2 linked regions of the Homo sapiens genome follow. The protein of the gene in region 1 purifies or fractionates together with the protein of each later gene. This does not show direct contact. Each region holds a gene or a part of one and is shown on either strand. Other genes may lie near its edges.

Evidence for each region.
Region 2: the proteins of VTI1A (region 1) and SCFD1 purify together in Homo sapiens (affinity purification with mass spectrometry; one large-scale study listed by BioGRID and IntAct). This does not show direct contact.

What each region holds. Positions count from the first base shown.
Region 1 is NC_000010.11:112,449,894-112,453,721, forward strand, and holds part of VTI1A (vesicle transport through interaction with t-SNAREs homolog 1A), read left to right. Parts: exon of another isoform or gene 1-833; intron 834-3,828. UniProt on the Homo sapiens protein: V-SNARE that mediates vesicle transport pathways through interactions with t-SNAREs on the target membrane. These interactions are proposed to mediate aspects of the specificity of vesicle trafficking and to promote fusion of the lipid bilayers.
Region 2 is NC_000014.9:30,625,222-30,629,049, forward strand, and holds part of SCFD1 (sec1 family domain-containing protein 1), read left to right. Parts: intron 1-2,987; coding exon 2,988-3,058; intron 3,059-3,828. UniProt on the Homo sapiens protein: Plays a role in SNARE-pin assembly and Golgi-to-ER retrograde transport via its interaction with COG4. Involved in vesicular transport between the endoplasmic reticulum and the Golgi.

The sequences.
Region 1 (3,828 bases):
TAATCATAATTCTTTTTTCTTTATGAGATGGGGTCTTGCTGTATCGCCCACGTTGGAGTGTAATGGCGCAATCTCAGCTCATTGCAACCTCTCCCTCACGGCTCAAGTCTACTCCCACCTCAGCCTCCCGAGTAGCTGGGACTACTCAAGCCACTGTGCCCGGCTGATTTTTTTTTTTTGTAGAGATGGGGTTTTGCCATGTTGCCCAGGCTTGTCTCAAACTCCTGGGCTCACGCAATCCACCCACTTGGGCCTCCCAAAGTGCTGGGATTACAGGCGTGAGCCACCGCACCTGGCCTGATCATAATTCTTAAAAACGCAGTAGTTGCCCTCTTAATAATGACTTGTGCTTGCCCCTTTTTAAATCTATTTCCAATTGATGTATAGAAAAAGATGAAAAATATATCCATGTAGTTATGAATTTCAGATGTATGTCTGTAGATGAACAGACATTAATATATATAACCATGGCAAAAATAGTTTGATGACAAGTAATTATAATCTCTCTCTCTGGCCATCATTGGCGAGTGCAGTGTTGAGCTAAAAGTGACCCAGAGGAGGTGAACTATAATTTACTTGAGTTAAGAAGGATAAAAATTGGAGCAAACTTTCCAGCCAAAGCAGTTAATTCCCCCAACATAGTAACTTACTTAAATTCAAGTAGAGTGGGTAGATCTATTGAAATGAACTTTACTCTGCTGTGCATGTTACAATGTATTAAAGTATTGCTTCCAAAGAGAACAGAAGAGTGAACATTTAAAAATTTTATTTTAAGAAAGAAATCTGATTACTCTGTGATATTTTTTAAACAATAAAGAGATTTTGCTCTTAAAGTGTTTGAATCTTAACTAATTTTAGTAATTGAACTGAGATGGGTGAGTTCTTTCTTAATACCCTATGGCACTATATTTGAACATTGTTTTTTTAATTATTATGGTTCTGTGGGAAAGTAAGGAAAAGGGATGAGCAGAAACTATACAGTTAGTACTTTATTGTGAAGTTCCTTTTCCTCTAGTGATGGGAGTGAATTCTTAAGTGGGGAATGTTTTCCTCTGGTGCAAAGATTCTGTTACACGAAATAGGCTTCCTGAAGAATTTTAAAGTAGTCTTTTTGCAATTAGTTGCTTACTTTACCATTCACAGAGAGGGAATGATCTGTTGTGAATCCTGTCACTTTATGGCTGTCCTCAGAATTGTACCAAGAAAGTATTACAGCAAAATGATTCAGATTCAGACATGACATCAGATCTGTTTAGAACCCTAGTTCTGCTACTTACTAGATGTGCAGTCATGGACAATTGCTTGGCCTTTCTAGGCCTGTCTCCTCCATCGGTAGAATGGGGGTGAGAGAGTAATAATTTCAACCTTATAATGTAAAAATCAGTGAAATAAAACATGTAACACACTAGCACCCTTCTTACACAGAGAAAACACGTGATATACTAGCCATTAATGATATTACTGCTGCTGCTGAAGACAACAGTTGGTAAGATTAGCTAGGACCCCGCTCTTCAGACTTTGTCATGTTAATTGAACTCTTAAATCTTACACTTCAATTCTTGCTTCCTTTCTGTTCCTAGACTAGAATTAGGTAAATTTCTCTTGATGAACACATTTGAAAGGAGGTAAGTGATTAGGGCCTTTTGGATATGAATTTGGAACTGGGCTTTGAACTCAGGATCCCAAGGGGGGCAGTCGGAGGAGAGAAGTGAAAGTGGTGTCGGACAAGGCAGGTGTCCTTTCTGGAAGGAAATGCCTGAGTCTAGTGGATTGGTTATGCCAAGCCCTGGAGGATTGTCTAGACCATCTAGACTTAGCCACGTGTAGATGAAGGCATAAACATACTTCTGTGATTCTCTCTTGCCTTTGCAAGGTGGTTGCAGTGAGATAATTCAGAAAAGTTGGCTTTTGTTCATGAATATTGTGGTTTGCTTAAAATATATTTGGCTTTAGAGCTGTAATATCTACGTGTAGCTATTGAGCACCTGAAATGTGGCTGTTGCTACATTGTGAAATGATAATATTTTAGATATATGCAATTACGTATTATTGAAATTAAAAACATTATTAAAACTAATTTCACTTGTTTCTCTTAAAAGTTTTTTATTTTTGAAAACTTTAAAAAATACTGCTACAAGAAAATTTAAAATTGCATGTGTGACTTGCATTATATTTCTGTTGCTCTAGAGGGTTACAGTTGAAGGGATGGTTCCAGTCCTGATTCAGGAACTCACTGCTACAATAGTTTGTTCCTTGTTAGGATTCAGGCTACCTCAAAATCTGCTTCATGAGCTGCTGGGCAAGGTCCAGCTTTTTCAATTGAGCATACAGGGAAGATAGTCTTTAGCAGTTACTGATGGCCCAGTTATGTCTCATAAAAAATTTAAGCATTTAGGGCCGGGCGCGGTGGCTCACACTGTAATCTCAGCACTTTGGGAGGCCAAGGCGGGCAGATCACGAGCTCAGGAAATCGAGACCATCCTGGCCAACATGGAGAAACCCCGTCTCTACTAGAAATACAAAAATTAGCTGGGTGTAGTGGCACGTGCCTCTAATCCTAGCTACTCAGGAGGCTGAGGCAGGAGAATTACTTGAACCAGGGAGTCAGAGGTTGCAGTGAGCCAAGATTGCGCCACTGCACTCCAGCCTAGTGACACAGTGAGACTCTGTCTCAAAAAAAAAAAAAAAAATTAAGCTTTTATGGGGTTGTATTCATCTTTGAATAATATACATTCATATAAACAATTGTGTGTGTGTATGCATCTATAGATCTATATATCTGTATGTTGTCTATATATTGGTCAATTTAGTCAACCTAAGTAATGGCTTCAGTCTTTTGTTTTTGTTTTTTTTTTTTAAATAAACTTTTTATTTTAGAACAGTCTGAAATTTACAGAAAAATCACAAAGATAGTACGGAGAATCCCATATACCCCATGCCCAGTTTTCTCTGTGATTAACATCATGTTAATATGGTACATTTGTTACAGCTAGTGAGCCCATATTGATACATTATTATTAACTAAAGGTCATACTTTATTCAGATTTCGTTTTGTTCTGTTTGTTCTTTTTACCTAATGTCCTTTAACTATTCCAGGATCCAATCTGGGACACTGTAAAACATTTAGTACTCATGGATTTTTAGGCCCCTCATGGCTATGACAGTTTCTCAAACTGTCCTTGTTTCTGATGACTTTACAGTTTAGAAGAGTACTGGTCAGATATTTTCTAGAAGGTTCCCTCAACTGGGATTTGCTCAATGTTTTTCTCATGATTAGATTGGAGTTCTGGGTTTTGGGGAGGAGGACCACAGAAGTAAAGCATCATTTTCACCACATACCAAGAATACATACTGTCAACATGACTTATCACTACTGATGTTAACCTTTATCACGTGGCTGAGGTAGTGTTTGCCAGGTTTCTCCACTGTAAAGTTACTGTTTCCCTCCCTTTTCCATACTATTTGGAAGAAAATCATATATGCATAGCCTATACTTAAGGAGTGGAGAGTTACACTCTACCTCCTTGAAGCCAAGTAATTACGTGAATTATTTGTAATTCTTTTATGTAAGAGAGATTTATCTATTCATTTATTTACTTATTCAGTCATTTACATCAGTATGGACTCATAGATACCTATTTTATCCTTTGTGTTATATTCCAATACTACTTTATTTTCATGTTGCTCAAATTGTTTTAGCGTTGACCATTGGGAGCCTTTTTTTTAATTTGGCTTCTGTGTCCTTTTGGTATACCCCCATCATTTTGGCTTTTTTCTTTTCTTTTTTTTAAGGACTATATTGCTTTCTGATAGTATAAGATACTCCAG
Region 2 (3,828 bases), on another chromosome or scaffold:
TGAATGAATAGTGTGTATGTAAGTAATGACATTAACCAAGTCTAGGAATATGGATACAGGTTGAGTATCCCTTATCCAAAATGCTTGCGACCAGGAGTGTTTTTGATTTTGGAATATTTGCATTATTACTGGTTGAGCATCCCAAATTTCAAAATCCGAGCACCAGCTTAAAAAATTTTGATTTTGGAGCATTTCAGGTTTCAGATATTAAGACTTGGGATGCTCAACCTGTAGTATATTTAGAGCCAATAAGAAAAATGGTTTGTCATTTCAGATAAAGTCATGGTTTAAGCCTTGGGTAAACTCTGATAAAAGTAAAATTACGTTCTTGTAAACTCTGAACACAGGCCGTGTACTCCATTAACAAATCCTTTTTGTTATAGGTATAGGTATACCTATATAGGTATAGGTATATAGGCATATAGGTATACCTATATAGGTATAGGTATATAGGCATATAGGTATACCTATATAGGTATAGGTATATAGGTATATAGGTATATAGGTATATCAATAGGTATATTGATATAGGTAAAAGGTATATCAAAATACCTTTTAATAAGTTAGCCAAGGCTCAAAGTTGGAGAAAATCTCAGACTGGGCTGAGAAGGCGAATGTAGGATTATCTTATTTGCTGCTGCTGGCCTCTTTCAGTTAGCTAAGGCCTAACTGTGCAGCATACTAAACACCTGAGGCTCACATGGCAGCTCAGGCTTTCGTTCTTCCAAGTTGTCAGGCTTCAAGAGTGTGAACAGCTGTTCCCAGAAACAGGGTTTCCTCCCTCTTGGGCGTGAGTGCCAGGGTGGTGGTGTCTTTATTGCCTGGAGGTGGAGGAAGAGCTCTGCAAATGCACAGTGGGAGAGTTAATCCTGAAACCCCCTCCGTGCTTCCTGTGTTATTTCAGTTTTAAGTGTTAAACTGTTTTTTTGTTTATATTAAATATATTTAATATTATAAATACATTAAATAAAATACATTTTTATTTAATGTAAAACCTGTGGGCCTCTGAAGTAGGTAATATTGGTAATGTGTATTTTTGGCTGGACATTAGGTAATAACATTTTACCAAAAATTATGTCTGTAGGTGTATGGTAAATACACCTGATAGCAATAACTTAAGCGTGCCCTGAGAATGACCCTGTATTGCAGACACACCTGGATATGTGTTTCAAGCTAGGGAATCAAAATGGCCCACCTGGAGATTCATTCCTTGTCTGTGAGGAACATCTGAGCCCCCAGCCCATCCAGTGAAACATAGGCCATGCAGTGGATCAAGGCCCCGAGTTTTGGGTTGAATGAAGGTTGCCAGGTGGAGGTTGTTAGGGAAATGTTAAGTGAAAATGCTGTATAAACCACATTTTTGCTATATAAACCACTTTTTGCATGCAGTTATGGTTCTCCTGCCCAGCGCATTGCCACTGAGTATACAGTTCTCCTGTCCAGCCCACTGTCACTGGACTCTCCTATGTGTGTTGCCCCCATTAAAACCCTGTGTCTCATTTCCTGGCTCCGGGTCTCTTCTTAGGCCTCTCAAACATGGGTATCTTCCCCACTGGAGGCAATAAGGGTTCGGCACAACAGTATGTACACACACATAAGTATGCAAATGTATCACTGAAGTACAATCTGTTCAGTAATAGCAGTTTTAACAGCATTATACCTACCTCAGCAAGCAAGCATTTAATAGAAGTTTTTCTTGTGAGTGAATGAATATGCTGTAAGTTGATATTCAGGTGATTTTAGTATTACATAGTTCTCTCGTAGGACTTTGGAGTATAGGTTATTCTGTATTACTTAAAGCCTGATGCAAATGTTTTTAACAATCAACCAAGTGGATTTTAAGGCTGTCAATTTTATAAAAATTAAATCAAGAAATTACAACTAGTATACTCTCTTGAATATTTGGCCATCTCAGTTTCACGAAGAAGTATATTAAGGGATTTTCATTTTCTGTAACACTGTTACAGATGAGTGATAAATAACACAAAATACTGTAACAGACCCGTAACTGTGATTTTTGATGTTGTATATTTGCTTAGCTGGAATTATCAGTTATCTACTATATGGGAAAGTCTGTTTTCCCAAGGGACATAGAATTTTAAGCAACTTTTCGGTGAATCTGACAGGATAAATTGTTTGTAAAATATACTCTTACATAACTATAGACAGATCTGTATGAAGGTTTTGTATATGAACCAATTGAATATGCCATGGATAATTTTGTTTTTAGAAAGACTGATCCAGGCCGGGCGTGGTGGCTCACGCCTGTAATCCCAGCACTTTGGGAGGCCAAGGCGGGTGGATCACCTGAGGTCGGGAGTTCTAGACCAGCCTGACCAACACGGAGAAACCTCATCTCTACTAGAAATACAAAATTAGCCGGGCATGGCAGCGCATGCCTGTAATCCCAGCTACTCGGGAGGCTGAAGCAGAACTGCTTGAACCTGGGAGGCAGAGGTTGTGGTGAGCCGAGATCACGCCATTGCACTCCAGCCTGGGCAACAAGAGCGAAACTCTGTCTCAGAAAAAAAAAAAAAAAAAAAAAAGAAAGACTGATCTTTCTCACTAGGCCACTCACACTTAAAAAAAAAAACAGACAGACAGACTGATCCTTCTCACTAGACCACTCAGACTTAAAAAAAAAAAAAAAAAAGACTTACCTTAATCTATGCTTTCAGCCAGACAGTACACAGGCAACAGCATCAGTATATTGAGGCCATTGCAAGTTCTTCCTGAACATTTCCCGCGATTTCATCTGTGGACAGATGCTTATTGTGTTTTGGGAAATCTCCCAAATACATGTCAATTAGCTGTCGATGGAATAGTCTTACAAGATCTGACCCCTAGTTCTACACATATAGTCATTTGGTTAATCAGTTTTACTAGAGTTGATTAGTTTATTTTGCTTTGGGGTAGTGAATGATGATGGAGGAAAAATAAAATCCTAAAAAACAATGACAATATTTGATAAAACTTTTTATTTTCAGTGGCTTTGAAGCGTATGTTGAATTTCAATGTGCCTCATATTAAAAACAGCACAGGAGAACCAGTATGGAAGGTAAGAGTTTATCTTAATGGGAACTGATTTCTGTTTTTCTCAGCCCTTATTGGTGGTAATTGGAGGGAATTTATTGTAATATGGAAGAAGTAACACATATTAGTTATCATGAATGTTTTATCCTTATTTAACATGATCTCTTAATATGAATTGTTTTGACAGACATTCTATGGAGTGAGACAAGTGATAAAATAGTAATTTTCATCTAGGGAGTCCAGTTGATCTCTTTGGTAGGATGTCACTGATAGGTCTTTTTCCTGGTTGATATTTTGTTCCTTAGCTTTTCAAGTCCAGACTTTGGATTTTATAAGCTTGCTCGGAGTTAGTCACATTCAGAGGGCCTGGATTATTTTAACAAACTCATGAGAAAATGATCTGTAAACTGTAATACCACTTTAATAATTTATGAGATATAAAACTTAATTGAACCAGAAAGCAATCTACAATCTTTTCCTTTGAGAAATACTGGAGAGCCTTTAAAAATTCCAATTCTTTAGGCTTCTTCATTTTAAACTTCATGCAGACTCTCTTTCTTCAGATGTTATAATACAGTTGATTGGGTTTAAACTTACTGGTTAACAGTCTCTTTATATTTCTCTCTTGCTAAAAATTAAGAACAAATCAACATGTTTAGAATTTAGGGTGTTTTGAAAACTCTCTTGAGTCTTTATAAGTCCTTTGGGTTAACTCTAAAAGTAGTTAAAGTTGTCTGTATTGATTTCATAGTTTAAGCTCCAGAGTATTCCCTAATTTTCTCCTTCTTGTTCCTT